3 separate regions of the Homo sapiens genome follow, and regions 1 and 2 are each linked to region 3. Evidence: fine-mapped expression QTL. A gene starts in region 3. Each other region holds a variant in brackets. All regions are shown on one strand. Distances are between the middles of the regions.

The links. PIP is the estimated chance that this variant, and not a neighbour inherited with it, causes the effect.
Region 1: its variant is fine-mapped to the expression of MFSD1 in whole blood (TOPMed, PIP above 0.99).
Region 2: its variant is fine-mapped to the expression of MFSD1 in whole blood (INTERVAL, PIP above 0.99).

What each region holds. Positions count from the first base shown.
Region 1 is chr3:158,753,992-158,765,131 of GRCh38, reverse strand. The region is part of intron 4 of LOC100287290 (a long non-coding RNA gene); the gene reads right to left. It also overlaps the pseudogene RPL35AP9. Among named protein-coding and RNA genes, the nearest start is that of RARRES1, 27 kb to the right of the region's middle. RefSeq lists a silencer at 4,304-4,499. The variant T/C (reference allele first, on the strand shown) is at 5,404.
Region 2 is chr3:158,823,439-158,833,965 of GRCh38, reverse strand. It overlaps MFSD1 (major facilitator superfamily domain containing 1), which reads right to left. Exons shown (of 16, transcript NM_022736.4): 12 at 10,441-10,527; 13 at 9,730-9,842; 14 at 7,904-7,951; 15 at 6,629-6,686; 16 at 4,250-4,987. The coding sequence ends at 4,984. Among named protein-coding and RNA genes, the nearest start is that of MFSD1, 27 kb to the right of the region's middle. The variant TAAAACAGGCC/C (reference allele first, on the strand shown) is at 4,818.
Region 3 is chr3:158,794,893-158,805,749 of GRCh38, reverse strand. It overlaps MFSD1 (major facilitator superfamily domain containing 1), which reads right to left and starts at 3,696. Exons shown (of 16, transcript NM_022736.4): 1 at 3,435-3,696; 2 at 1,379-1,431; 3 at 276-388. The coding sequence starts at 3,597.

The DNA.
Region 1 (11,140 bases), 41 kb after region 3:
CAGTCATGTCTCAGTGTGTGCAAATGCACTTTTAAAATGCATTGTAGAAGTGGAGTTGCTGGATCAAAGGGCATGGACATTTAAATTTCATTAGGTGTTGCCAATTTCCTTTCCAAAAAGTTGCACCAATTTACATGCTACTAACCAGGAATAAGAATGCCTGTTTTTCCATGTAAGAAGTGGTTGGTTGGTTGCTTAGTTTGCTGGTTGAAGATGGGCAACACTTAAGCATGCTTAAAACAATGAAATGAAAGAAAGGGGCAGGAGAAATAGAGAAAGAGAAGATTATAGAAAGGGAGAAGCTAGAGGAGAAAGAGCACAGAGTGCATGTGCAGGGATTCACCCTGGAGAGGAGGAGGGACTCTCCTTCCATCACAACAAAAAGAGGAGAATGGGGTGGAGCTAGTCAGTTTGTAAGTTTGGTGGCAGGAAGAGGCTTTTATTTTTTCTGAAAGGTAAAAGGCATGAGTGGTTGCTTAAAGTGATGGTGGAGGAATTAGGTTGGGAGGTTGGTACAGAATAAATATTAAGGTAACCACCATGAAGAATAGGAGGGAAAGTTGACTGGTAAAACAAAGAATGATTTCCAAGCAGCATTTAAGTCTGATCGTTTATTTTTAGCCAAACACAAGTTTTCAAAAACACTTCCACTCAGTCTCCATCAATACATCCCTCCCTCCTAACAGAACACAATGGAGGAGCCACTTGCAGGCAGGCCACCATCTGAGAATCCCTCAAGACCAGGAAGGCAAGTGGGGACCTTCCCAAGCATGGAAGTTAAGCCCCCACTGCAGGGTTTTTTGTGTACCAGAGGCATCCATGTTCTCCTAACTCTATAACCAAGGGCCTCTCTCCACTTGGTTACAGAGGCACCTATGGTGTGGTTTCAGGATGTCCTCAAAACATCTCCCCCATCACTCCCGAAAATTCACCTCAGAGAACTAAGAGTTGGTCCTTGCTTCTTGCTGAGGTACACAACAGATGCCCACTGCAGCCTATATTCCTTAGTAAGGACTAAGATCCCTTAGTCCAGTCCTATTGTCCAGCCCTCTCTCCAACAGTTCATCCCATGCTAACTCTGATGGTGCCGCTGCACTCCAACCTGGGCTACAGAGTGAGACCTTGTCTGAAAAATAAATAAAAAATAAGACACCTATCAATGACCCCCTGCGACAGTGCAGCAGTGGGGGAAGGACCTCGTAGGCAGGTTGTCTATGTGCTGCCAAGGGCAGGTCAGAAGGAGGGACCCTAACAAGCTGCCTTCGCCTTGAAGCTCCGTGTTTCACTGTTTGGCCCTGCCAACACATAGAAATTAGATACCCACATGTTTTTTCAAATTAACAAACCTAAAATTGTATTTATTTACTTTTCAATGAATTTGAATCCTCCAGTGGTACAGCATCACATGGATTCTGTGCCCAATGGCCTTAGCAGGAGGGTGGCTTTGGAACTTGGCACAAACCACGCTGTTCTTTCCTTGGGCACAAGTTACCTTTCCCCAGATGACTCTGGTTTTGTTTGATTTGCTGCCAGGGCCACTGTGTTGTTCTTTGCACACATAAGTACATCTGTTTCCCAAATAAAATTCAGTTTCATCTCGGGCATAAACACCTTCAATTTCAAGAACAGTTGTGTGCTCCCTCTGGTTCCAGAAATGTCACTTCTAGCAAAAGTGGCCTCAGGGCACAGCCCTGCAGACATGTTTGCTGTTTCAGAAGCCCTGTTCCCATGGGCCTCTCCAGGCTCCAAGAGGGCAAAAAGAATGAATTTGATATCTTTTGATAGAATAAGAATCTCTGTTTCATTAGAGAAGAACAAAGTACTATCTTATACAATGTATCCCAAAATAAACTGTTTTAATTGCTGAATCTAAGACGTAGTGATACATGTAGTCCTAAATCTTACTCCAATTCCTTAAAACTAGCTTGAATTTCCAGAAGGTTGGTGTCCTACTATTTGTGATGAAAAATTAACACTACAAAAAAAATAGCTCCACTAATAATTCCACCAGCGAAAAATTACTTCACTTCTCACTATTGAGATTTTGAAAGACTGCGTATCTGTTTACCTGGACATCTTCCTAAATTTCATAATTAATCCTCAAATGATGTAAGTAAAAGTTCTGCAGGTCAGTAGGAGGAAACAGAATTGAATTTTATAAAGTATTAAGATTTCTCAAGATACGGCCAAAGGCCATACTCCCTTGGGCTCTGGAGGATCATGTTCTCAGGAAAAGTAGAGTTAGGGTTGGAGAGAACTCAAAAAGGATATGAGGGGTGTAGCAGGATGTGGTCATTGCGATTTAGGAGGCCTCACCCCCCTTGAGTCAGTAATAATTATAATACTGAACACTCCTGGGGTACTTTTGAAACCTTAGAAGCCCCTCAAGGCCCCACCATGGGTCCAGTGCACTGCGTTGCTGAGAAAGGTCATTTTTACAAATATCACGTAACCTGATGTGCTCTGAGGTGGTGGACAGCATGGGGGAGGAGGAGCTCCATCCTGACTGAGTGCTAAGTGTTGCAGTCATACCCTCCTCACTGAGGGTACTGTGCGTCCACTCTGCCTGTCCACAATTGACAGCAGGGCAGTCAGTGAGCCTCTGAAGACACAGTCTGAACACACACACCTCTACCTGAACATTTGAATGGCCCCACATCACTCTTAGAACAAAGGCCGAATACCTAATATGGTCTTTGTAACTTGGTATCTGTCTTAGTCCATTTGAGCTGCAGTAACAAAGTATCTTAGACTGCGTAACTACCAAAAAAAAAAAAAAAAATTATTGGTCACAGTTCTGGAAGCTGAGAAGTCCAAGATCAAGGCACTGGCAGATTTGGTGTCTGGTGAGGGCCATTTCCTCATATACAGGAGTCTTTTTACTGTAAGCTCACATGGCAGAAGAGAAAAATGAGTTCCCTGGGTGCCTTTTATAGGCACTAATTCCATTCATGTGAGCTTCTCTTAATACTCGTTTGGATTAGGTTTCAACATATGACTGGAGGCAAGGGAACATTCCCATCAGAGGGGTATCTGACTTCTGCCCACTTTCCCACTTCACCTTCCCCATCCTGCTCCTGCCACTCTGTCCTTTTATGAGCTCCTCAAGCATTCCAGATGGGCATCGTCCCACGGCAGAGTTCTGCACATGCTGCCCCCAACCCAGGGCGCTCTCCCTTCCCCACCTCCTTGCCTTGCCGAAACTTTAGGAAGCTCATTTATCTTGACTGGATTGCTTAATATTAGTCTAATGTTTAAATTGTCCAGTTGAGATAACAGGGTCCCCTTTAGTGCCATGAGTCTATGATTATTCTCTTTTTCTGGAGGACAGAGATGCAAAAGTTAAAGTAATCAAACTACTGTTAAGTTATAGAGAATAAAATTCAAGAGTAAACCTTTACTGTGTTAGGGGTAGAAATTTGCATGTTAATTATATGCTGTACTGGTGGGGAATGAAGCCAAATGTTACATTTATAAAGGATGGTACAGCACTATGCCATTGATTCATGTTTCAAGCGTTTATTGAGAGCCTGTGATGTACCTGTGCCAGGTATTAGGAAATAACACAGTGAGCAAAACAGACATGGGCCTTGCCCATATGGAGATCACAGCTCAGTGGGAGAGGAAGACGTTAATCAAATAATCATACACATAACTGCACAACTGCCTATTGTGATAAATTCTCAAGGGAAAGGTTCTGAGAGAGGTAAACTAGTCTGGGTGGCAAGCTTACTGAGAAACAGACCGTTAAGCTGAGACCTAAAGCAGGAGTGTGAAACAAGGCAAAGGGACCAGCCAGTGCCACCACTGCCTTGCAGGAAGCCCACAGCCTACCTTCCTACCAACACACAGAGCCCACCCGACGCGGCCAGAGCCAAACACAGCCATGCTCTCCTTCTCTCCACATCGACAGAAACACGTGCACATCCACACCCAAAGTGGGCAAGTAGACGTAGCCCAACAGAAGGAGAAACCCCACATGGATTACTCATCTCATCTTACCACAATCAACACAAAATTAAACACAGCAGTGCATCCACACTCTTATTATGACTTCCTTTTTTATTGAACTTTTAGTTTTTCTGTTATAAATATTATGAACTTTTTACAAATTCAACTCTTTCAATGAACTATAATTATCATTTTCAGGGCCACGTTCACATTTCCAAAGGCAGGCAGGAGCTCTCTAGGTCAATGCCTATGTCCTTTCATCACGGTTCCTAAACCACTTGAAATCATTATTTTGCTCCAGATCAATCCTGAGGTTTTCTCTGATTAAGACAGGAAATCAGCTTCCCTGTAAGGGGCCCTGGCTCCTTATAGAGACCAAATTCTGAGCAAAGGGGGACACACAAGAGAGTGAGCAACGGCCAAGCACCCCCACTACTCTCCTGTATCGTTAGCAGTGCTAGAGTGAAGGTACATCTTTGAGGACTTGCATTCTCAATAATGCTCTGATTTAACAGACCATGTTGTTGTAACCTACTTTTCTGATAGGATGAGATTTCACTGACCATAAGATTTTTTCTTTTCTGCTCTTTCTTTCCTCAGGGAAACTGAGGCTGAGAGAGCCTGTATGACATGTCCAGGATGCCATCAGCAAGCAGTGGGATGCTATTTCAAACCTGGTCTAATCACAAAGCTTGTGTCCTCTCTATTACAAACCATTTTGTGGAACAGAAGCTACAGTTCTGGTCATTCATTTATTTATCCCATAAATCAATCTTTCTTTATAGCTTACGACTCACCTTCTTCCCTTCTCCATCCTGTCTCATGGTCGTAAGATGATCGAAGTAGGTCCTGTCCTTCCTGAACACGCTGCCAAACTTCTTTTAATTTTTAAATATGTGAATAGAGACAGGGTCTCACTATGTTGGCCAGGCTGGTCTCGAACTTCTGGACTCAAGCAATCCTCCTGTCTCTGCCTCCCAAATTGTTGGGATTATAGGCATGAGCCACCGTGCCCAGCCCACACTGCCAATGATGAGAAGAAAATGTTCCTAGAATGGCATTCAAGGAATCTTTTCAAGAAAAAGCACTTTTATAAATTATTTTTATGCATTAATGAATTATTCTCTCAGGTAATCACATTGGCTCACATTTCAAGGTCAAGATCAGGATGAGGAGTAGAGGATAATAACAATGGATATCATCTGGGCAGTGTATACCAGTAGAGCAACAGTAAATGAGGATCCAAACCCTGACAAGCTCTGATTATCAGAATAAATGACCTGCTCCTTCCTTGCAGAATTGGCCTGTGGATCAAATAAGAGCCCAATAGCTCTTAGCCCAGCATCTGGCACAGATCAAACACTTGGAAAATGCCCACCATCATTGGAAGCATTACTTCTTTCTGAACCACCCAGCTTCTTGAGCACCATGTGTACAGTATTATGATTGGAG[T/C]TGGAGTTAGTATAAACAAACAATCCTGCCTGTCAAATAGCAAAAATAATGGTTTCAAAAATCACTTTTCTTGAGAGAAACAATGTGTTGTTTTGAGTTAGAAGAAGATGAGCTGACCTAGTGAGGAGAGTGCCAGCGTGGAGGAACGGACCACTTTGGGCCTCCTTCGTGGAGAGCTCCTACCCATCCTCTCTCAGGGCCTAAGAAAAATAAATGAGGCAAAAAGCAATTGAGCTCAGAACTATAGTGGATGAAATCAAATTTAATGGGCATCCTTACCAAGAATTAAGTCAAATGGTTTAAGCATTTAGGATAACTTGCCTTTATCAAAAGTCAAGGGAGATCTTGTTTTTAGTACATTTAAAAAAAAGACTTTACCTCACCCCAATCCCAATTTCCCCCAATACCACACAGTTTACTTACTTTGGTTTCTTCATTCAGAGTGATTATATTCCCAAATTGGGGCCTACTAAAGCCTTTGGAGGCCTTCCATCTGTAAAGATGGAAGATTAAATAAAATTGCAATCAGCTCAGTAGAATGTAATGTTGTAGTAGAGAAAATTAACAGTCCCTGTCCCACATATTATAAAAATCTTCTTTGAAAAAAAGCAGAAGGAAAAAGCTAGTCAAAGCTGATCTAAGTTTCTGTAGACAATGGCACAAATTGATGATAAAGAAGTCCATTCAGTTCCCATTTTCTCAACTGCAGAATAAGTTTGCTGAGGCAGCTCTGAATAACCTAATTAATGACTGCAGACAATTTGATAGAATTTTTAAAATATAATTTAAAAATATATATAACCAATGTCTTTCTATCAAGTTCAAAAGCAGTGTTTGAAATAGGTGCTAGTTCATACATTACAGTGAAAATCTAAGTTATAGTGTTGCATATGTATCTGTTTGCATATATAATATATACATATAGCTGTATGTATATGTAATTATAATTGGTACATCTCTATCATCCATCCACTTGTTCATGTAGGGATTAGCCTCTGAAATTTCTAATAAATGCAATACAAGTTTTGAAACTCCCTGTGAAGCCCCTCTATGAAAAGGAGGCTAGAAAAATTATACACATAAACATACATTTTCCCTCAACACCGTGGGTGTCAAGGGAGTTTGTAATCTGCCTGCTTCTACGGATAAAAAAGAGTAAGTTTTTCACATAAAATCAAACCCCCAAACCTATTCCACTTAAGGGAATGGTATTCATATTTACATTTTCCCCAGATTATAGGAATCCTTACTCAGAAAATTAAACTGAGAGCTAGGCAGGGAATCAGAAAGCCCTGTGATCTAATGAAAGACAACCAACCTTGTAAGAGCGCCATAAAGAGAGACCTCAAAAATGTGAGATAATGGAATCATGCACCTGACATTACAGACATATTTTTGTCACATTTGAAGTATTTTTGAAAAAACTGAACATTCATAAAACTTGACCACTGAATGAACATCAAAAGGAATCTCAGTAAATAAAAACTCAGTATCATTCAGATCAAGTTCCCAAACCATAATAAAATACAATTAAAAATCCAAAACAAATAAAAAATGAACCAACATATTTGGAAAATAAGAAATACATGTCTAAATATTTCATGAGTTAAAGAATAAATCATTTAAAAAATAACAAAATACTGTATTTAGAAATGGATACCAAAGAAAATGCTACATATCATATGGAATGCAGGTAATGCAGAACCTAGAGGGAAAAATTCAGATATATTCAAAAACGAAGAAAAATTTAAAAACTAATGATTTCACAGTCAGTTCAAGAGAAAGCCACAATTGACAAATGGGATCTAATTAAACTAAAGAGCTTCTGCACAGCAAAAGAAACTACCATCAGAGTGAACAGGCAACCTACAAAATGGGAGAAAATTTTTGCAACCTACTCATCTGACAAAGGGCTAATATCCAGAATCTACAATGAACTCAAACAAATTTACAAGAAAAAAACAAACGACCCCATCAAAAAGTGGGCGAAGAATATGAACAGACACTTCTCAAAAGAAGACATTTATGCAGCCAAAAAACACATGAAAAAATGCTCATCATCACTGGCCATCAGAGAAATGCAAATCAAAACCACAATGAGATACCATCTCACACCAGTTAGAATGGCGATCTTTAAAAAGTCAGGAAACAACGGGTGTTGGAGAGGATGTGAGGAAATAGGAACACTTTTACACTGTTGGTGGGACTGTAAACTAGTTCAACCATTGTGGAAGTCAGTGTGGCGATTCCTCAGGGATCTAGAACTAGAAATACCATTTGACCCAGCCATCCCATTACTGGGTATATACCCAAAGGATTATAAATCATGCTGCTATAAAGACACATGCACACGTATGTTTATTGCGGCACTATTCACAATAGCAAAGACTTGGAACCAACCCAAATGTCCAACAACAATAGACTGGATTAAGAAAATGTGGCACATATACACCATGGAATACTATGCAGCCATAAAAAATGAAGAGTTCATGTCCTTTGTAGGGACATGGATGAAACTGGAAACCATCATTCTCAGCAAACTATCGCCAAGGACAAAAAACCAAACACCGCATGTTCTCACTCATAGGTGGGAATTGAACAATGAGAACACATGGACACAGGAAGAGGAACATCACACTCCGGGGACTGTTGTGGGGTGGGGGGAGGGGGGAGGGATAGCATTAGGAGATATACCTAATGCTAAATGACGAGTTAATGGGTGCAGCACACCAACATGGCACAGGTATACATATGTAACTAACCTGCACATTGTGCACATGTACCCTAAAACTTAAAGTATAATAATAATAAAAATAAAATTAAAAAAAGTCATATAACTAATAAATAAAATGGAAAGAATAAATGTAAGAACTGAAATGAATGAAATAAAAAACAAAGATAACTAAATAGATTTAATAGACAGACACAGTAGTTCATGCCTGTAATCCCAGCACTTTGAGAGGCAAAGGCAGGAGGATCATTTGAGACCTGCTTGGGCAACATGGCAAAACCCCATCTTTACCAAAAATATAAAAGTTAGCTGGGCATGGTGGCAATGTGCCTGTGGCCCCAGCTAGTCAGGAGGCTGAGAGGTTGGAGGATTGCTTGAGCCTGGGAGGTCAAAGGCTGCAGTGAGCCATGATCACGCCACTGTACTCCAGCCTGAGCGACAGAGTGAGACACAGTCTCCAAAAACAAAAAAAAAAAAAAAAAAAAGGAAGCTATATAACTAATAAACAAAACAAAGTAGAAGAAAAGAGCTAATAAATGCAGGAACAGAAATGAATGAAATAAGAAAACAAAGATAACTAAATAGAGTTAATAAAACCAAATGCTGGCTCTTGACAAAGACTTATAAAACAAAAACTTCACAAACCTGGCAAATAATAAATAAGAAAAGGCACATATCAACAATAATAAAAAATAAAAATTCAATATAAATACTGGTATAGGAAATTTTAGAACCTCATGAAAGAATACTATGAACAACAATATTATAATAAAAATGTAGATGAAGTACACAATTTTCTAGAGAAATATTTTAAAAACTCAAGAAGAATAAAAAACCTGAAAAGATCTGTTAAGCATTTAGAGACAAACAATAATTTAAAAATTTAATCAATTTTTAAAAAATCAACAACTAGGGGGCAAAGGGGTGAGAGGGGTTTATAGAATAATACTTCAGCATCACAAATTTTGAAGAAGAAAATAATGCATACATTGGGATGAGTGATGGGTTTGCACTGCCAAATGTTAACCCACATTATAAGTATATTAAATCCACACAATAATTATTATAAATGACTAAAATGCATGGTTCCATAACGAAAATAGACTATTCAGCTAAATAAAAGTTACAAAAAAAAATCAACAACAAAAACAATCTTTCAAAATGATATACCCACTTTAGAAGACAGTTTGGCAGCTTCTTACAAAACTAAAAATATTCTTACCATATGATTCAGCAATTGTGCTTCTTGGTATTCACCCATAGGAGCTGAAAACTTATGGCCACACAAAAACCCATAGATGAATGTTCATAGCAGCTTTATTTATCATAATTGCCAAAACTTGGAAGCAACCAAGATGACCTTCAGTAGGTCAATGAATAAAGAAATTGTGGCACATCCAGACGATGAAATGTTCTTCAGTGCTAAAAAGAAATGAGCTACCAAGCCATGAAAAGACATGGAGAAAACAAATTCATATTACTCAGTGAAAGAAGCCAGTCTTAAAAGTCTACATACGACATCATTCCAACTATGCAACATTCTGGAAAAGGCATAATTATGGAGGCAGTAAAAGGATCAGTGGCTGCCAGGGATTGGTAGGAAGAGATGAAAGATGTTAAAGAAGAAATCATTTTCAACAGCACAAAGACTTTTTGGGACAGGGTAACTATTATGTGTGATACTACAATGGTGAATATATGAATATATGTCATTACACATTTGTCCAAACCCATAGTATATACAACACCAAGGGTGAACTCTAATGTAAACTATATACTTTGATTGATAATGATGTGCCAATGTGGGCTCATCAGTTGTAATAAGTGTTCCACTCTGATGCAGGATGTTGATAGTGGGAGAGGCTGAGGAAATATGAGAATTTCTGTACCTTCAGCTCAGTTTTGCTATGAACCTAAAACTGATTTAAAAAATAAAGTCTATTTAAGAGGGAAAGAAAAGATCAACAATCTTTGAAGGCTTTACAATTGTTTTACTAATCCTTTGAAGAAAGATAACAAAGATCTTAAATAAAACATTAACAATCTAAAACTGGCAATGTACTACATTTTTAAATTTAGGTTTTATTCCAAGAATGAAATAATGGCTTAACTTCAGAAAATCTATCAACGTAGAAACTAGCTTAACAGTTAAAAAAGAAAAAACATATAATTATTTCAATAGCTGTAGAAAACACACATAACAACTTTAAAGCCCATTCGTAATTGGAAAATAAACTCTTAGCAAAGTAGGAAGAGAAGTTAAAGCTCATGATTTCATCAAAGATGTTCTCTAAAAGATTACAAAAACATTTAATGATGACATATTAGAAGAATTACCTTACAATCGGCCGGGTAGACACCTGTAGTGGTCTCACACCTGTAATCCTAGCACTTAGGGAGGCCGAGGCGGGCGGATCACCTGAGGTCAGGAGTTCGAGACCAGCCTGACCAACATGGAGAAACCCTGTCTCTACTAAAAATACAAAATTAGCCAGGCATGGTGGCTCATGCCTGTAATCCCAGCTATTCAGGAGGCTGAGGCAGGAAAATCGCTTGAACCCAGGAGGCAGAGGTTGCCGTGAGCCGAGATCGAGCCATTGCACTCCAGCCTGGGCAACAAGAGTGAAACTCTGTCTCAAAAAAAATAAAAATAAAAAATAATTACCTTACAATCAAGAAAAATTTAAGGATTTTCAATATCGTCCCTTCTATTTAACTCAAGGTTTTAGCCAGGAAAATAAGGCCAGGAATAAATATAAAATGTATAAGGTTTGGAAAGGAAGAAACAATCTTGCCATTAATTGCAAACAGCAAGAATGTTTACAATGCTTTCTGTTGTTGGGTAACAAATAACCGCAAATTTAGCAGTTTAAAAAACCCACATTTATTATGTCACAGTTTTGTAGGTCAGAAGTCAGTATCTCTATACAGGGTGTCAGTAGGCTGAAATCAAGGTGGGGCTGAAATCAAGGCGGAGGCCCTACTTCTGCTCTCAGCTGGAGCTCA
Region 2 (10,527 bases), 28 kb before region 3:
TGCGAACAAAGATAAGACACATCCCAATTTCAGAAATGTTAAAAGGTGAAAAATTGTCTACGAAACATACTAAGTAGCATGATCATAAAACCTTACGTACTTAGTCATTAGACTCAAAAAGCATTTTAAAAATCTAAGTGCTGACAAATAAACTAGAACTTTCTAAGATAATTCAAATATTTCCACATGAAAAGAATACATACATTATCTTAAAAGGCAATTATAATATTTTTCCTTTGAAACATTAAGGAACTATTTGTTCTGCATCCTAATTGTGGTGTCATAGCACAAATCTCTATTAAAATTCACAGAATTCTAAAAAAAAAATAGAAGTCATGGAAAACATTTTTTTTTTTTTTTTTTTTTTTTTTTTGAGACGGAGTCTCGCTCTGTCGCCCAGGCTGGAGTGCAGTGGCGGGATCTCGGCTCACTGCAAGCTCCACCTCCCGGGTTCACGCCATTCTCCTGCCTCAGCCTCCCAAGTAGCTGGGACTACAGGCGCCCGCCACTACGCCCGGCTAATTTTTTGTATTTTTAGTAGAGACGGGGTTTCACCGTTTTAGCCGGGATGGTCTCGATCTCCTGACCTTGTGATCCGCCCGCCTCAGCCTCCCAAAGTGCTGGGATTACAGGCGTGAGCCACCGCGCCCGGCCGGAAAACATTTTAAGAGATAATATGATTGTCCTCAGGCCCATTCCCTGTACCTTCCCATCCACTAAGCCTGGCCTCTACCTCCATGGACCCTGCCAGAGCCGGAAGAGGACTCTTACCTTCCCTCTAACACTTACCTCATAGGCATGACTCTAAAATCCTGGGATGACCTGCTGCCAGGCCCACCTTCCTACTACCTCCAGCCATTTTCTCTTCCCAGTTCTTGAACCCTGTTGCTTCCAGCTCCAGCCCAGCCTCTCTCTCATCCTCCTCCCACCCACTCTATCCACTGTCCATCTCTTGTTCACTTTACCCTGTGAAATCTGAGCTCTACTGGGCTGGAGGTGGGGGTTTCCCATTTGTCGTGAAATTTTTCGTTACCTCTTCCCCAGGACAGACAGGGTTGGCTTCCAAAGGTTAAAAACTATCTGAACATGGTAAGACATAGAACCCCCACAATAATCGGATTTTCCTTGGAAAACTGAACAAGCCTCAATATTGGCGGGAGGGAGCAAGACTTGCAAGAAGTTAGCCCACACTTTCAGCTGTTTGGGATAACTCATTGACTTTTAGAAATTCCAGAGGGCATTCTGTTGCCCCTCCAGGGTGCTTCATTTACTTACCACAGTAATGTGAATGCAATCCAGGAAGGCCCAGCTTGCCCAACCCATCAACTACACAAGGTATGGAGAGATAAATTTGTAGATGTTTTAGGTCATCCACCAATACACATCTAACATATATTAGCCATATCCTTATGTCTCATAAATTAAGAATGAGAGTGCTATAGAAGGAACTCTAGTGATCTTCTATTTTGCTAATAAGAAAATGGAAACACAAAAGCTACTACGTGGTAAAACTTGGAAGACACACACCGAAGGTGATCCTCTTCAAAAAGACAAAATGACAAATGCCTACAAGTACATGATAATCTGAAATGAAATGCCCTGTAGGTCCACTGATTTGCATTACACAATAAATCTGCCAAATCTACAAGGGGAAGATCAGTTTTGGGAATACAGTGGATTACTGTAGCAGGCAGCTGCCAGAACCTGGAACTGATAAAGATCCACTGAAGAAAAGATATGTGCACAGGAATGCATGACCATATACACTAATATACTTGAGAGAAATAAATGTTAATAAGTTATACTAAGTTTGGCTGTCTGGCCTACACGATGTCAGGGCTTTTTAGTATTTCTTACAAAAACTCAAAGCTTTCTTCCATGAACTTTTTGGCAGCAAATCACTGCTGAAGGCTTACAACCAAATCCCCACTGGGGCACTCAGGAACACTCAAATGGAAGAGGGCAAAGGATATGAGGCTGCAGTTGAGGCCTTCCAGATATCATGAGCAGCATGCACACAAGTTGGAGCTGTTGTTTGCTACCAGTGAATACTAGGACTAAAAAATAAAGGCATTGTTTCGTTTATCCTTGACACCATTCTTTTCCATTTTGTCTCTGAAAATTCCCTTTACGTGCAATTTTATTCCTGGCAATGCAAATTTGATTTCTAACTCATGGCACTGTTGAACTCCCATCTTCACCCCCAGAGTTCTTTGAAAAACACTACCTGTTCCTTTCCTCCCTTCTGAACATTATCACTTTAAAACAGCAGGACTCAAACTTGCATTGAACTATATTCTTTGTGGGGTTTTTAAAACCTTCATTACACAATAAAGAGCTATTGTGAAAAAAAATCAGAAAACATAAATAAGCCAATAGAAATTCATCATTCAGAGACACTGGTGTACATATCATGCAGATATATTTGTTTTTATAAAAATGGCACCACTATGAATCTTCCGTGTGAAAATGTCATCAACATTATTCCATGTCAATATGTTCTCTAACAAAACCATTTAATGACTACTTAATATTTCACTTTAGGTATGTAATATGATGTACTTAACAAATCCCCTATTATTGTAAATTAGAGTGGCTTTCTATTATACTTTAGGCTATTATAAAATCTGGCAGTGAAGACGCTTTCTTAAAATATATTTACATGTATATTTGTCTGATGGTTTCTTTAGGACAAGTTATTAGAAATGGAATTGCTAAGCCAAAAGGCATTTAGCCCACCACCATCCCCCTTTTAGGTCTTTTTATTCATATTGCCAATTCATCCTCCAAAAGGGTTATTCTAATTTACTCTTTTTATATATCATTCAAAAAAATATTTATTTTGTGCCTACTTTTGCTAGGCACTATCAATATAATCATCGATAACAAAACGGACGCAGTCCCTGCCCTCAAGGAGCTTCCAATTTAAGGAAGAGAGAGACACCCACACCCACATTATCAGAGATTCTTCATTATTTTAAGTTGAGGTAAGCTAAAAAGGAAAACTGCAAGATCACAGCAACTTAGAAGAACCCAATACACCCTGAAGGATCTGGAAGAGCTTCCATGAGGAAGAATGGTTCTGGGCTGGGGGCTAAGGTTTTCTGGTATAAATCAGGTAAAAACAGGTTCTAGAGAGCCTTGGAGAAAACATTCTAAGCAAAGGGAACAGTGTGGACAAAGCCGCTGGGAGGGAAAGGAACACAACCCATTTGAAAACATGTAAGCAGCTCACTGTGGCTGGGGCACAGAGGCGGTGGAGAGACAAGGCAAGAGGCCAGGCCACATGGGCCTTCCAGCAGAAGTAGTGTGGACTTCCTGCACTCTCCCCCACTTGTGAGGTATTCAACACCCATGTGCTGAAACAGTCATATGGCGTCAGAGCCTAAAGAACTAACAACTCAATAATGACACATGTATTAGTCAGTTCTCACACTGCCATAAAGATACTACCTGAGACTGGGTAATTTGTAAATTACAGGGGTTTAACTGACTCACACTTCCATATGGCTGGGAGGCCTCAGGAAACTTAAAATCATGGAAGAAGGCAAAGGCGAAGCAAGGCACATCTTACATGGTGGTAGGAGAGAGAGAGAGAGTGTGAAGGGGAAGTGCCACACTTTTAAACCATGAGATCTCATGAGAATTCCCTCACTATCACAAGAACAGCATAGGAGAAACTGCCCCCATGATCCAGTCACCTCCCACCAGGTCCCTCCCTCAAACACATAGGGATTACAATTCGAGATGAGATTTGGGTAGGGACACAGAGACAAGTCATATCAACACAATAAACTGTAAGTCAGAAAAACAGATGTAAATAAAGCTGCCAAGCTACCTTGCATAAGGAACGTACTTTCAATCTGTTCCCAAACATTTACACTTACAATATCATGCCATGTGCTTTAAACAATATAATCAGCTAAATACATTGGTTTAATATCTTGTCTAAAATATCTGCATTCTTTGACTTTAACAAATAATATGTTAAGGCTGAAAAATATTAAAAAGTATTTAAAGTTTGTCAGAGAAGCTTCATACTCATATTTTACTTAATATAAAAAAAACCACATATGTTACTTAAAGTTCTACTCTGGAGAAAAAGCTACCCCCATAATCTTTCAGTGACTGTAATTGGGCAAGTTCTCTTTATTCTGACTTGGGTTTTCTTCTAGATAATCTTCTGCATGAATAAAAGTTAAAATCAGTGTTTTTGTATTTTTTAAAATCAAAAGAAGACATCAAGTACTCCGTGTGCAGTGTTTTAATTTATCCATGTACATAGGCAATTATCATAATTTGAAGGACACTTTTTACTTATTAGACTATAAGAAAAACTGTACAGAAAGTTTATACTATAAAATTACATCCCTAAGTGATTAGGGTCCTCAGTAACACAGAAATAAGAAATTGAAAAGGGTCATTGCTCGGCAATCCACATAACTACAGAGTAGAGCGCAAGCTATTGTTCGTGATCAGAAAGAGACTTCATAAAAACATCTTCACATATTCCCTAGCATTATGCCCTACTAGTAAAAGGAAGGCCTATGACAATGCCATTGTTTATTTTGTGTAACGCAGCCCTTCTATTTCCCTCAAAAGTTTTTTTTTCCTGCTATAAGATAAAGAAAAGGCTGTATCCCTAAGATATATACCTAATGAAGATTATCTCAACAGAAGCTCCAACGTTTTCCATTTTTCACTGTCTTTCCTGAAGTTCACCTGGATGTTCCACAGCAATTTTCTAACCCTTTCATTGTTGATTAGCCTACTAAAAGTAGAATTCTTTAGCAACACACAATACAAAAGACACAGGC[TAAAACAGGCC/C]TCACAAATACACTTTGAAATAGGTATATTTGGATATAAATATAACTTTCCAGTCCATTATTTTTTCTAATGACTAAACTCTAAATTTTTAAAAATGGAAGTTTTCAAACCAACGATGTGTTAAGCCCATTCTCATGACACATTCATTTTAACTTCTCATCTGCAAAACATAACGCAATAAATTACCAAAGAGGAAGAAAAAAACATGAAGCTCACCTGCCTTATAAAATGAAAACCAAGCATTACAAGACATGTAATAGCAAATACTAAGCTACACATTTTTTTTCTGAGCAATTTTTTAACTCTTCTTGATCCTAAAAGTCACAAAAGATCAATGTAGAAAATTTGAAAAATATTCTGAGTTTTTAATTAATATTCTGAGGTTTCAATTAATATGAGGTTATTTCTAGTAGTATATTTTCTATTATACATAAGTAATTGGGTTTAAAACAAGCATGTGACAGCATACTTTTTCTTGAATAAAATTAGGATATTATATTTGCATTTTTATCTTTTGTTTACTTAGCATACGGCATGTTAAGCATCTATGACATTAAAAATCCTTCTAAAACATGGTTTTAACAACATATCACATGGATGTGTCATGATATATTTAACCATTTTCCCTACTCTAAGACATTTATGTTGTTTCCAAACTTTTAACATAATATGACTATCATAAAGATATTCAAAACTCATACTTCTGATTATTTTAAGATGTATTTGTTAAAAGTGAATTTAATATGACCAAAACCACCCCCATCTCAAAAAAACAGACTGTTCTACCAGATTTTAACCTAGTCAAAAGTCACAACAATTACAATCACATGGTATATATATTTACAAATAAATGTTTAAAATCATAAAAACTTCAATGTCTAAAAATATTAGAAATAACAGGAAACAGAATCACTATTATGTTTCAGTACATACTTTTAGAAAAAGAAATGTTAACTTAATCACCATGCTATATACTTAAATCTCTTCCAAATGAATCAGAGAACACAGAACCACATATTGGTACCAGAAGAAGATGAAAAATTATCAACTACTTAAGAAAAAGAAAATATCTGAGAGAATGGAAGGGTAAGCCCAGTCCAGGACCTCAGGACGAAGGCCTTTCCTCCAATAAATTACAAGTAATATAGATCGATCTCTGTCTCTCTCTCTCTCTCTCTCTCTCTCTCTCTCTCCCCCTCTCTCTCTCTCTCTCTCTCTCTCTCCCCCTCTCTCTCTCTCTGTGTCTCTCTCTGTCTCACAGAGAACAACTTAAATTGAATTATTTTTTTTCTTCGTTTCAAGCCTTAATATCCATTTTTAAATTTTCTGAAGCAAACAAGAATGTTGTTATAATAGTTCCACACACATAATAGCTAGCTCTCAAAACTCAAGGAAAACTAATCTCTTAGAAGTTCAAAGCCCAGGCCAGGCGCAGTGGCTCACATCTGTAATCCCAGCACTTTGGGAGGCCGATGCAGGCAGATCACTTGAGCCCAGGAGTTCTAGACCAGCCTGGGCAACATGGCAAAACCCCATCTCTACTAAAAATACAAAAAATTAGCCAGACATGTTGACACACAACTGTAGTCCCAGCTACTTGGGAGGCTGAGATGGGAGGATTGCCTGAGCTGAGGAAGTTGAGGCTTCAGTGAGCTGTGACCATGCCACTACACTCCAGCCTGGACGACAAGCATGGGAATCAAAAAAAAAAAAAAAAACTTCAAAGCCCAAACCTTGAAACGAAATGCTCATATTTAAGATTTCAAAAATAAAGACAACTTTTTACCCTTTTAATACTTACTCAGTATGGGAAAATTTTATTTCTTCCCTTTGTCTTGCAGAATAATTTAGGTTCCCACCTAAAACACAAATAAACATAGATCTTTTCCATATAAGTATTATCAGTAAGTAAATTTCAACCATACATACATACATGCAACCATTTGCATAGATACACTGTATTTTAAGTAATAGAAAAAGCTATCGACGATGAAAAAGTAATGGTTTATCTACTGGAACCTTCCCAAAGGGAAAAAATGAAATTCTTGTGTGATATAAATAATCACCCCTTAATTTAAGCATTTTTTTAAGTTTGGACTTATGTATTGCTTCAAGTGTTGTTACTTAGGACACTGTATTAATATTCAATAATAGTGAAAATTAAGAGAAATTAAAGGAAATGAACAGGTGTGGTAGCTCACGCCTGTAAATCCCAGGCTAAGGCGGGAGGATTGCTTGAGCTCAGGAGTTTGAAACCAGCCTGGGCAACATAGGGGGACCCCATATCTAGAAAAAATTTTAAAATTAGCTGGCTGTGGTGGCATACACCTATAGTCCCAGCTGTTTGGGAGGCTAAAGTGGGAGGATCACTTGATCCTGGGAGGTTGAGGCTGCAGTGAGCTGGGATCGCACCACTGCACTCCAGCCTGGGTGACAGAGTGAGACTCTGTCAAAGAAAAAAAGAAAAGAAAAAAAAAACTATTAAAATAAAAAAAAAAGGAAATGACCTGAAATTATTTACACAGCATATATATTATATTCTACTAAATATATAAAACTCTTTAGGAGCAAGCAGTTAGAAAAATTACTAATGACAACATCAAAATCTTATCAAGAACAACAACAAAAATCCACTAATGCATACAGTACGAATTAGCAAAAGAAAAAAAATCTGTAATTTCTAATTCTAAACCAAACATCTTGAACCTTAAAATGTAAATTATAGCTATAAATTTGCTTAGTTCTGATTTCTTTTAACGTAGGACAATAACACAGAGGGGCTTTAGGTTACTTTTTAAATGCTATATTTCTTTATGTTAATATAAAAATAACATCTAAGATTTTATATTATTAAGAAACTCATCTGGCTAGATTTTAAAAAATGACAGCAATCTTAATAAATATGAAGGCCCAGAAAACATAATTATATATTACATAATCAAATGTGTTTCCATCATTATGAACAGAAAGTCATTACTGCATGGAATAAAGCACTGGCCCCCAAAGAGGCAGACCCAGAGACCCCACAAGATGATCCACTGCGGTTTAAGAAGCAAATATCAGATCTTCTACTTACCCTGGGCACGATTCACCAAATAGAGTAAGACCACAGATAAAAGTGACACTAGGAGTGAAAAAACATAGGGCCCTTAAAATATGTATTTCTTCTCAATGATTCCTATGTAATCATAATCACAAAGCAAAGCTTAGACACAATCAAACCTTTATTAATTGCTATTTTAAATAAAAATATTATTCCCATTATTTTATTTTCCAAAAGCACTAAAAATAAGTTACACACTATTTTCTCCAAGGGCTACTCAGCCCAGGGGTGGCAGGCCAGAAACAAAGAAGTTGAGGCCCCTAGAAAAAAGGGAGCCGACCCAGCCACAGCCCAGCCCTGCCCCTCTTTCCTCTCCCTTTCTCAGTGCTGGTCCTTTGCAGGACTTACCAAAAACTCCTGCCAGCCCCCGATTGTTTATCATTTCAGAGGAAGCCAAATAGTAGTCTTTTGGGGGCTTTAAGTCTGAAAATGCCATGTCCATTTTACAAATTTCAAGTAACCAAACATTAAAATGTGATCATTAGACTCAAATCAATCAAGACCTCAAAATTCAAGTTTTCCCTTGGCTTTTTCCTTTAATAAGTGAAGAACACTGTTTAATTTACTTTAAAATAATAGGGCAGGCCTATTATCTTATTATTTTGATTCATGCCTGTAATCCCAAAGGCAGGAGGAGCGCTTGAGGCCAGGAGTTCAAGTCCAGCCTGGGCAACACAGTGAGACAGCATCTTCACAAAAAAATTTAAAAACCAGCCAAGCATGGTGGTGCACACCTGTAGTCTTAGCTATCACGGAGGCTGAGGTGGGAGGATCACCTGAACTCCGCAGTTCAAAGTTACATTGAGCTGTGACTGCTCCACTGCATTCCAGTCTGGGTGACAGAGACAAATCCTGTCTCTAAAAAAGTAATAATAATAAAATAAAATAACAGAAAAACATATTCAAACGGCACACTGTTTGCTTTGAGACCCAAATACATGTTGAACTGTGGACTGACATTTAACCACATGCTGCAACAACAAAAATAGACAAAAAACATTTTATGATTTAATGTCTGAAATTCTTATATGACCCACTTTTTTAAACATTTATTTTTAAAACTTGACGTCCTTGTTTCTAAAACAAGCACGTTTATTTATGAGATAATAAAATGCACTCAAGGCAACTCATAAGCAATTATCTGCAAATACCACACTTCAGGTATGGATGGTCTTTATTCCCTATAAATGAAAACAAAGTTTGATAAAATCATCACTGTGGTTTGTCATTTTAAGCACAATATTGAACTATAAAAGACATCTTGATGTGTTAAGGAGAATTTTCTTTTCAGATAAACACAATTTATATGTAGGGTAAAGATTACCTATGGACAAATGCTATTATTTTTATATATTTTTCAAGTTTCCTAATGCTTCCAATTTCAAACCAATGAAATTACAGGTAAAAACTAAATTACGGACTAAAAATAAAAATCAGTTAAAACTGCCTAATGAATAACCATGAGTACTCACACCTAAATCACACCAACGTTTCCACATAGTCACATTAAGGATATACTCAGGACTCTTCAAATTGTTCCACTTTAAGTGGGAAAATGCTTTTTTTTTTTAAACTGTAAATAGTTAAAACAGAATATGAAACCAACTCAATCACTGCCTTTAAGGATAGGAATCTCCTAAAAAATGCCTGTGAATCTTCAGAGGGCTAGAAAGTCACCAGCTATGAAATTCTAATTCACAGGTGAGAATTAGGCAAATCTGGGAGCTATGCCTAAGTAAAAATAAGAACATTCTGTTATGTAGTAAAAGAAACAAAATGTTGTCATACGGAATACTCACAAGAAACACAGGCAATGAAGAACACTTCCAAAAACAAATACCCCCGAGAATCCAGTATCATACCAGCAATGATGGAAATGATGGCCAACCCAAGATTCTGAATGGACTGCATGCTACAATGGAAGAAATATAAAGACACATTTCATTTTCAAAAGTCTTCACACATAGGCTAACACTTCACTATAAATATTAGTATCTGTGAACCATATACTATTTGTGTTCAGAGATGTTTTCCACCAGGGATGACTTGATTAGATTTTGGATTGGTTTTTATCCCATAACTATTTCCACTACTAGACTGCTCAAAGGTAAGGGAGCTTGTCTCATTAAGTGCAATGTGGATTCAATACCTTTGTGCTGAATGAAAGAAGGGCCATGTGAATATCAACCACAGGTGCGGTTTCCCCCCTCTGCCTTTCTGTGCCAGGAACTGGACTCAGCTTCTCACTAAGAAGCCTCACATAAACAGGCAGGGAGATTATAATGTCAGCAAGGACCTCTTCTGGGTTAGCTTACTCCAGCCCTCTTGCTGGAGGCTCTTTTGTGGCCACAACAGTATCTTAAATAGATTTACTGACTTTTCCAGTTATCTCCAGGTTCAGCGCTACCCCAGAGGCTGGATGACGACTAGATTCAGATCTGGAGTTTTATATGATAATTAAATTGACATAGCAGAGACAGACATATACGATCCACAGCGTAAATACTTACAAGCCATATGCAGTTCCCAGCTGATGTTCAGGAACTACAAATGCCACCATTGGCCACAATGCACAGGCAAGCAATGAGTAGGAGAGT
Region 3 (10,857 bases):
AGAACCTGGTTTACCTGATCCCAAGGGTGAGTATAATTTTCCTATGGATAACTGAGTTACCTTATACCATCAGCATTTACTAGTCCTGACCTTAACTGAAATACCACGTTTCAAAAACCAACTCCAGAGATATAAAAATCATTTTTTTAAAAAACTCAAGCAAATTATTAGTTAATACAGAAGTTTATTCAGCTCTTTCTAGAAATACCTTAATCTAGCTCTGTATTTTTCTAACAATCAGGTAAGATTTACCCATAGTTTCTTTTCAAGCTTACCGTATTCCAAATACTCGGTCTATCAAAAAGCCACCAAAGAAACACAAAACTACATTGGGCCAAGAATACCAGGCATACAGCAGCATGAATTTCGTGGTATTCACTTGCATATCCTATATGAAAAGAAAATAAAACTATTTTTTTCCAAACAGTTAAGTTTAGCAACTAACAAATCAAAATATGACAATCTAAAGTGGAAAGTAGTTACATTCTTCTTTCTGTAAAGGGCAAGTTTTTTTTAACCATTTATAAGTCTCACTAACTTCCTTGAGAATCTCATGAAAGCTATGGCCCCTGGCCCAGGAAAATGGTCACACCTGGGAACCCTGGGAACTTCTTGAGTTCACATGCCATTTCAGGGGCTTCCTGGATTCCAGGATCAGACACCCTGCTACAGGGACCACTTCTGTCTGACTATAACTTCTATATACTACCTGCACTGGGGACTCTGCCCACATATACAAGGATAATCTTAGCCTATCCCTACCTACCCTACCCTCTCCATCCCCTCAAGCATGCTCCTCCTACTTCCTTTCTCTTTCATTCTAGAATGAAAAGGGTCAACCTATGCATTTTCCCTGTCCAAAGGTTAAAAAGAACCTACAAAGAAAAGAGACTAAATACCCAAAAAACTGTAAATATCAAGTATGTTCTTACAATACAAAACCAGACTAAAAATCCTGACATGGACAATCCTCTGCAATCAGTATCCACATTTAAAAAACAAAATAACAACTAAAACCTATTTAAGAAGGCAAAAAGCTATCTTAACAAATCATTTGTCATTCGGGTGACTAAGCACTGGGAGAGTGAAATGCAAACAAAAACCTGCTCATATTTTTGACAATACTGTGGAAATACCACATAATTATTTATCTAAGGTCTGAAACAATTTCAAGTCACATATGTGCTATAAATGAATTATTTGTGGTAACTCATTTCAACTTAAGAACACCCCTTGCAACTTGTGGATTTGGTGACTACAGATGTCAAAATAGATTCAGCGGACACGTGAGACTAGGGCACCTGAGGGTTGATAATGCCTCCACCGCTACACTTGCTCTAAAGAAAACAAAAGAAACAAGAGTGAAAAATCAACTTACTCGTTTAACTTGAGTCTGAAGGGCAGCAGGATTATCATAGCAAAAATAGCTGCCTAGAAAAGAGCAAATACTTTATAAGTAATAATACTTCCCATATAAAAGTTTCAAGTTGCAGTTGCTACTGAAATTACAATTTTAAATGCTGATACTACGGGTTGACACTACAGAAATATTTCTGAACCACTTCCTTATCCACCAGTATTTTCTAAGTTATATCAAATAACTTCCATAAATTGGTAGTGTTCATACACAGCAAATACTGGGAACCTGAATTAAAAAGTCAACAACCAACAATTAAATATTTTTCTATTTTACTTTCATCATGCTTCACACATATACTATTTTATTAATATCTTCATGAAGCATCTATATTTTATTTATTTCCTTATTTACAAACACACATACACTAAAAACTTTACAACCTCATCAGTTTCCTAATAATGTTAGCTTAAGGACAAAGGAATGGAGTGTAACCATTCTGACAAAACCAATATTTGAAACAAGTTCTCTAATTCTACAAACTACCCAAAATCAAATAATTTAGTGAATACAGGGCCAGGAGTGAAAAAAAAATGAAACTGAGAATTCTAAAGGATTAAATTAAAACATGTCTTTGGGGGAACTGGAAAGAGAGAAGTAGGGAGAGATCTGACCATGCACTCGGATTTATTTTAAAGATAAAATAATTGAGATTCCTTCGTAGGCTACAAGAAAATATTGCCTCCATAGCTCTACTAACTCTACAAGTGCACGAGGCTATTGGTTCTAATGACAATAAAAACTGTCATTAGAAAGGAATGAATCTGGCTTCTGAATTCTAGGCAGATAACCAGAATTTACCAAAAACTGTCTGTCTGCTTGAGTGGGGACCATTTTTTTTAATGTTTTATTGTTGTTCTTTCTTTGTTGTGGTGGTGGTTGTTTCTAAACCCTGCTTTAATCTCTTTTAAGGATTCAACGTCCTGCTTTAAAGCTAATGGATGGGCATCATCTTTTAAAAAACAGGGGAGGGGGGAAAAAGGAGTTGCAAGGAAACCAAAGCCCAAAGCATCCTTCATGTCTACTTATATGTTCAGCGCTAGAATAGTTATCCACCATAATGTTCTTAAACCTGCTGATTACACGGGCTCCAGCTAGCCTCCTGAAAAACACATTCATACCAAATTAATATTAGAATTTTGCTTAATAAATTAAAAACTGTAACATAGGAAGGAAAATTTTTTTCTAATTATCAAGAAACTGTTTTCGGAGACATCAGATTTCATAAGAGAAACCAACCACTGTCAAGACTACCACAAGTCCCGTCCAATATGATTGCTTCACAGTGGCAGAGTGGAAGATTAAGAGAACAATATCTATTCACTGAAGCTATCAGCAAGACACACTCATACATTTTCTCAAAGAGGGTGAAAAATATATAGAAGACTGCCGACGAAATCATTCACGTTTTTTAAAAGCTGGACAACATTGTAAGACCCTGTGTCTAAAAATAATAATAATAATAAAGCCGGGTGTGGTGGCGCCCCATCTGTGGTCCCAGCTACTCGGGAGGCTGAGGCGGGAGGATTGCTTGAACCCAGGAGGTGGAGGCTGCAGTAAGCCACTTTCACAACACTGCACTCCGGGCTGGGTGACAGAGCAAGCCCCTGTCTCACCTAAAACCAAACAAACAAAAGTTGTTTAGGAACAGTTAAAGCTTTCTGAATTTCCTCCGACCACGTGTGCCAAAAGAGGAACCTTGAAAATCTGGAGTTACCTTCATATCTATCGCCTCTAGGGCGAGTCGCTAGCCCCTGGGACTTACTGAAGAGCAAAGGAGTGCCACAAAACTCGCCCAGCTCAGTCCCTCGACCTCCACGTTCCGGACGCGGAGTAACTAGCAACATCCACAGGTGTGGCTGGAATCGATCGCAAAGGGGAAAATAAGGAGGCCCAGGAGCTTAAGACAGAAGCTGCGCTGAGGCCCCGTGGCACCAGTGACCACGATGACGATCTACCTCGAAGAGAAAGTCGGGAATTCCTTAAAGATCAGCCCCAACCCACCCGGCCGGCTCACCAAAGCCAAGGAAGCACATCAGTAACAGCACCAAAAGCCGGTGCGCCAGGCGACTGGGGTCGCAGAGGGCCGGCAGGGCTCCAGGGGCGGCCGGGGCACCTCTGTCGGCCTCGTCAGGGCCGCCTGCCAGGAGCGCCCGCGCTTCCTCATCCTCCTCCTCCATTGCGCCCGCAGGAGACGGAGAGGGGAAAGTGGTGACAACTCCAAACCCAGGCAGGAAGCAGCGCCCGTGGAACACTGTCAAGACGGCGGTCACATGACTCCGGGAGCTCACGTGACGCCCCGGCAGGTCACGCAGGGCCACGCCCATGTGAGCGGCCGCGAGCGCTGGGAGGACGGACCCAGCGGTCGATGACAGGGCCTGGCGCGGTTCGCTTTTCCTGGGTGACTGTGTTCGTGGGGCTGAGGCCCTCGAGGTGCCCACTTCCAGCTTTCCACCAATTACTGCACTGTCTTTCCGTTTCCTGCCCCGCTGACGCGTACACCTATTTCAGACTCAGCGCAGCTCCGCGGGGAGAAAAGTGCGGGGCTCCCTCTCGGCTCCACACCAGACTCCGGAGTAGTTCGAACTGCGCTGGGGTCGCCAAGACGCGCGCTGCCCTTCTCCCAGCACTGCCCTCCCCAGCGTCTTTGACCACTCTTAATACCCACAAACTTGATCGGACAATTTCTGGTGTGTCCAGCCATGTGTCACGTACTGGGAATACAAAATAGAATGAGGCAAGCTCCCTGACCTCAAAGATTTCAGAGTTCAGTTGGAGAAATCGACAGAATCTGGTACTTTTAAAACTAAACATGATGAATGAATGTGGTGAGAACAGCGGCAGAAAATGGCACTGAATTCCATAGAAATATCTGGAAAGGTCATTTCAAAAGGGGAGAAAAGGTGCGTAGTTTAGCCAGCTTTCAGGGCAAGGGAGTGAGGGGCGCTGAAGCTCCTTGAAGTTGAAACCCAGGCTAGAATGAGTAAGAATGCGCCAGTCAGGGTGCTTGTTTGAGCGGGTTGGTTGCAGGGCGGGCAGTTACGAGGGATAATAAAGACAAAAGCGTGAAACAGAACTGGGTGTGTATGTGTTTGTGTTGAACGACAGAGAAGGAACTCGAGTAGAAACACTAAACCTGTTTCAAGAAGAGCCATGCAAGGATTTTGAGCACAGCAGCAGGACTGCAAGCTTTGTGTTTTAAAAAACATTCGGTCTGCCAGCACAGCACCATCGTCGCTTTCTGGGAGCCCTCAGGCTTTACTAACAGAATTTTGAGGGCGTCAAAGCTAGAGGCTGAAAACTGTGAGGATTATTAGGAAGATGCTGCAGTCGTAACGATTAGAGATGACGAGGGCCTGTTAGCAATAAAAAGCAGGAATGGCACAGAAGAAAATCAGTAATTATTTAGGAGGTAAAATGGGAATAACTGTAAATAATAGCCTATGCGATCTGAAAGAGAGGAAAGACTTGAGAGTGTCTCCCAGATTTCTAGCTTGGGCCGCCAATAGAGATCAAAATTTAGAGAGAGAAGGAGGTAGGAGAGAGTGTCAAGGATCAGGTGCTGCCTTTGAGATGTCTATACATATCTCCACTTTCACAGTCCATTCTCTCTTCAGCTCCAGTGGAGGAGCTCCCGATCTAATAAAACTGTCTTGCCGAGAGGAGTAATAACTCCATCTTTCCAAATACATTAGTCACTTCTCTGTCATCTTACTCAACTTCTATCAATTGATGGAATTGACAGCCACTCCTTTTTAGCCTCCTTGGCACCATACTTGCCTTGTGTTCCTCCCACTTTGCTGGCCTATCTCATTTGCTGTCTCATTTGTCAGCTCCTCCTCTTCTATTCAAAATCTAGATGTTCAATGATGCAAGACCCATTCCTGAGCTCTCTTCCACTCATCCATTCCCATAACTTTAAATACCCTCCCTCTGCTGTCCAGTAGGTAGCCATGTGTGGCTGTTGATCATTTGTAATGTGGATAGTTGGAAAGGAGATGTGCAATACGTATAAAATACACACCAGATTTCAAAGACTTGTATGAAAAATAGAATAACCTCCTAATTTGAATACTGATTACATGTTGAAATAATATTTTGCAGATATTAGGTTAAATGTATATATATTAAAACTGGCCGGGCACAGTGACTCACGCCTGTAATCCCAGCACTTTGGGAGGCCGAGGTGGGTGGATCACCTGAGGTCAAGAGATCGAGACCATCCTGGCCAACATGGTGAAACCCCATCTCTACTAAAAATACAAAATTTAGCTGGGCGTAGTGGCACCCGCCTGTAGTCCCAGCTACTCAGGAGGCTGAGACAGGAGAATCACTTGAACCCGGGAGGCAGAGGTTGCAGTGAGCCGAGATCGCGCCACTGCACTCCAGCCTGGTGACAGAGGGAGACTCCATCTCAAAAAAAAAATTATATATATATAATTTTATTTTAGTTTATATATATATATGTGTGTGTGTAAACTAATTCCACCCATTTTTACTTTTTATGTGGCTGCTAGAAAATGTAAAATTACCTATGTGGCTTACATTGTATTTCTGTTTATCAGTGTGGATTTATATGCTGTTGCCTCTAAAATACCTTCATTCCAGACTCCTTTCTTCAGCCTAAGACTACCATTCCAACTGTTTATTTGATATCACGTGGATGATGTGGATGACTAATAGGCATCTCAAACTTATCACATTTAAAACAGAATCCTTGAGTTCTCTCACCCATGCTATACCTATTCCTCCCTAAGTGTTCCTTAGCAAAGTAAATGGGACATCTCTCTACCACTTGCTATCCGCAAGTCTAGCAGTCATCCTTGATGGCTTACTTCATCTCCTACATCTACTCCCTCAGCATGTCTTGTCAACTCTCTTCCAAAATATACCCTCATTGTGCATGTTCTCCATCACTACTCCTCTTACCAGAATGATCTCTCCCAGACAATCACAACAGACTCTTTAAATTGTTTTATTTTGCTTAATTTTGATGAGAGATACATCTGGTGTATATCATTCAAACAGTACCAAAGAGAATAAAGTTCAAAGCGAGTCTTTCCTGCCTCCCTATACCCAGTACTCTTGGGAAGTAATCATCATTATCAGATTATTTTGCATCCTTCCAGAGTTACTACACACAGTTGTTTTTCTTCCTTTCAGCCCAGCAGTGTGGCCTAGAAATTGTTCTTATTCTTGAGGACGATCTTGGAAACAGTCTGTTTGCCACACCATCCTAATCAAGCTTGTTACCAGATTTTTGGTCTTTGCAAATATGATCAGTGAAAATTTGCTATCATAGTGCAGTCTCAATTTATATTTCTATTATATTGAGGAATATTGAACCTCTTTTATGTGATTAACAGCCACTTATATTTGTTCTAGGAATAATCTTCATATCCTTTGCTTATTTTTCCAGATGAATTATTGAGGCTTTTTCTTATTGATTAAATAGGCTCTTTGTTGCTGATAGGAGCTGCATATATTTATTTTGACTCTGTTTACGGTAATATTTCCATATAGTTTCTAATGCCAAACTCTCTTTTTATTTTATAACTCCAGGGGTTTGCTTCTCACGCAAGATTTTCAACAGCCTCAATTGGTCTCTCTACTTCCGTTGTTGCATTTCTATGATATGTTGCCCGCACAACAATCAAAATGATCTTTTTAGTTAGTTTGGAGCTTTGGTTTGTCAAGGAATTATGAGTCAACCATCAATATTTGAACTAAAAGAAACAAAACTGGGCCAGGCACCGTGGTTCACACCTGGAAACCCAACACTCTGGGAGGCTGAGGTGGGGATATTGCTTATACTCAGGAATTGGAGACCAGCCTGGGCAACATGGCGAAACCTCATCTCTCCAAAAATACAAAACTTAGCCAGGTGTGGTGACATGCGCCTGTAGCCCCAGCTGAGGTGGGAGAATCACTTGAGCCCAGGAAATAGAAGCTGCAGTCAGCCGTGATTGCACCACTGCACTCCAGCCTGTGTGACATAGCAAGACCCTGCCTCAAAAAAAATAAAAATAAAAAAAAGCAACGAAACTGGATTTACTGTGTACTCTAATAAGGAAAAGCTATGCTGGGTCGGCACAGTCTCCCCAAGCAGAGCTGGCTGCTGATGCTCTATGGAGCTTTGGGGAATACAGAGTTCAGGAATAGGTGCATTTCAGAGGCAAAAGGGTTTGCCATCACCTGTAGAAGAGTAGATATTCTGGTAAGACTGTTATTAATTCTCCACTGAATTTATTGGAGTGAACCTGTCATTGGCTGACTTTGAGAAAGGAGGGGTTTTTCAAAACAAGTTTTACTGAGGCAGTTGATTAATTGAATGGGTTTAAAACTGGTTCTAGGAGTGTGGAAACTTGCTTTAATTCTCAGGGCTTCAAAAAATTATTATAGAAATGTGAAACCTACAGAAAAAAAAAAGGTAAAAAGGTAATGTACCCACCAAACTGAGCATCCAGAGAAGGACACAGGAAAGAGCTTTTTAGTCAGTGCCAACTCCCCTGTGCATGCCTGAGAACTTCTCCTTGGGGGCTTGCCCTTCCCAGGAGTTCAGGCTACCTGGTTACCTTGCAACCCAGCTGTGTCTGATGGTTTCAGTTAAGGTTGTGACTTTGTAGTTCATCTGAGTTTTTCTCATTATTGAGAAAGGAAAGATGTTCATTGCAGCTTTTCATATCCTAAGCACAAAAGAAGTCTTTCGTCTCAATTTTAACAGTACATTAATGGGGTATTACCCTTTTTCTCCCAGTTTCACAGTTGTCTTTTGTCTTTATGAAGTTTTTGGCTTATTTGTTTTGTCATGAAAAGGGTTTTTTTTAGAATATAGTCAAATTTATCAATTTTTTCTTTTATTGCATCTGGATTTTGAAACATAATTAGAAATCCTTTCCTTGTACCCAGGTTAAAGAAGAATTCACCCATTTTTTTTTCTAGTACTTGTATGGTTTCATTATTTAGATTTAGATTCCTGACCCATTTGGAGTTTATTCTTTTGCCTAGTATGAGGTATGGATCAAACTTTTTATCTTTTTCTAAATGGCTAACCAATTGTTAAGTCCATCTTTGTCCAAGTGATTTGAGATGCCACCTTTATTGCATACTAAATTCCCATATGTATTTGGGTTTACTTCTGGACTTTCTTTTCGGTTGTACTGCTCTTTCTTGTCATGCACAAGGACCACTGTTTTTATTTTAGAGGCCTTAGAATATGTTTTAGTGACTGGTAGATGTAGTCCCCTTTCATAGCTTTTATTTTTGTTTTCCTGGATATTCTTCCATATTTTTCCACCTGAAATTAGTATCAGCTTGCCTAGCTCCATAAGAAAACTGGTATTTTTTTAATGAACTTTGAAAATTAACTTAAGGAGACTTTAGTTTTTAATGTTAAGTCATCACATACAAAAAAAAAAAGTGGTGTTCCAGTTTTTCAAACTATTTCATGTCTTTTGAGAGTGTTTTAAAGTTTTCTTCATATATATTTTACAAATTTCTTGTTAAATTTATTATTCTTTGTTGCTTTTGTAAATGTAGTTTTCTCTACCTTTATGTCATGTTACTGATTATGTATGTGAAGGCTGTTGATTTATGTATGTTAAGTTTATGTCCTGCCAACTTATTGAATTCTTCTCTAGTTTGACTTAGTTTTGCTGTTAATTTTCTGTGATATTCCAGGTGTACTGTCATACCATCTGCAAAGACAAAGAGTTTTACTCACTCTTTTCTAGTTCTCCTGCCTTCAATTGATTTCTCTTTACTAACTGCAGTAGTGAGTATCTCCAGTTCAATGTTAAATGGCAGTGAAGATAGTGTACATTCTTCCCTTAGACCTGGGATAAATATTAAACAAACAGAAGAGAAAGGAATGCTCTTCCTTGTAATAGAAAGCCAATCAATACATGTAGAAGGAATGATGGAAATATAAAACCACTGTTTGCTAGGCATCATCATAATATCTGATCCAGGCAAGAATCAGTAGTTACTAAAATTAGTGGATAAAAGTTTGAAGTGTAAAGGATATATGCATAATCTCAAAGTAGCTCCTCACCAGAGATTTATTAATGACAAAGGAAAAAATAGTGCAGAAGCCTGGCCCACATACGTGAACCAAGTGATCATAGTTAATACTACCAGTATTGGAACAAAGTGACATTATGTGCCCCCAGATATGCACTGAAACTGAAAACACAAAACTCTGTGATTTACCTAACAAAAGCTCATCATACCTAAATCTCAGCATAAGGAAACATCAAACAAACCCAAATTGAAGGATATTATACAAAATAACTGGCCTGATTTCTCAGTGTCATAAAAGACTAAGGAACTGCCCTGATTAAAGAAGACTCCAGAGACATAACAGCTGAATGCAACACATGATCCAGGATTTCTTTGGCTATAGGGAACATTATTGGGACAGTTGACAAAATCTAAGTTCTGTAAGTAATTTGTATTCTGTCAGCATTTATTTTCTGATTTTGACTACTGGACTGTGGTTATAAAAGAAGGTACCTGTGGCCGGGCGTGGTGGCTCACTCCTGTAATCCCAGCACTTTGGGAGGCCAAGGAGGGCGGATGGATCACCTGAGGTCAGTTCAAGACCAGCCTGACCAACATGGAGAAACCCCATCTCTACCAAAAATACAAAATTAGCCGGGTGTGGAGGCGCATAGCTGTAATCCCAGCTACTCGGGAGGCTGAGGCAGGAGAATCGCTTCAAACCAGGAGGCGGAGGTTGCCGTGAGCTGAGATCAAGCCATTGCACCCCAGCCTGGGCAACAAGAGCAAAATTCAGAAAAGACGAAGACGAAGACGACGAAGACGAAGACGAAGAAGAAGAAGAGGAGGAGGAGGAGGAGGAACTTGTTTTTAGAAAACACATACTGAGATATTTAGAAGTCAAAGGACATGTACATATATTAGATATATATGTATATGGAGAGAGAATAAAACAAACATGGTAAAATGTTGCCATTTCAGGTGTCTGGGTAGAGGTATGTGGGAACTCTTTTTACTAGCCTTACAACTTTTCTGTAAATCTGAAACTATATACACCACACTTTGACCTCCTAAGAGTCTTGTGCATCTTTGTATCTCAAACATCTAGAACAGGGCCAGCTTGAAAACTGCTTAATAAGTGAATCCCTTAAATCAGGAGCACGTTACACCACCTAGTGGTGTAACAAAGGAAGCTTACTGCTGTGGAAAAACCTGTTCCTGTCCACAATGAACTTGCTCATTCTAACTGTGTTGACCTATTATTAGCCAAACAAATTGCACTTATTTTATAATTATCAAGTGATGGGAAAGTGAAAGCAATTTGGGGTGTAAGTATAGGCTTTATCATCTTGGACACAAGGTCACTAGACTGACCAGCCTGGTTTCACAGGTGTGGGGGTGGTTGCAGCCTCTGGAGCAAAGTTAGCCACACAGACAGA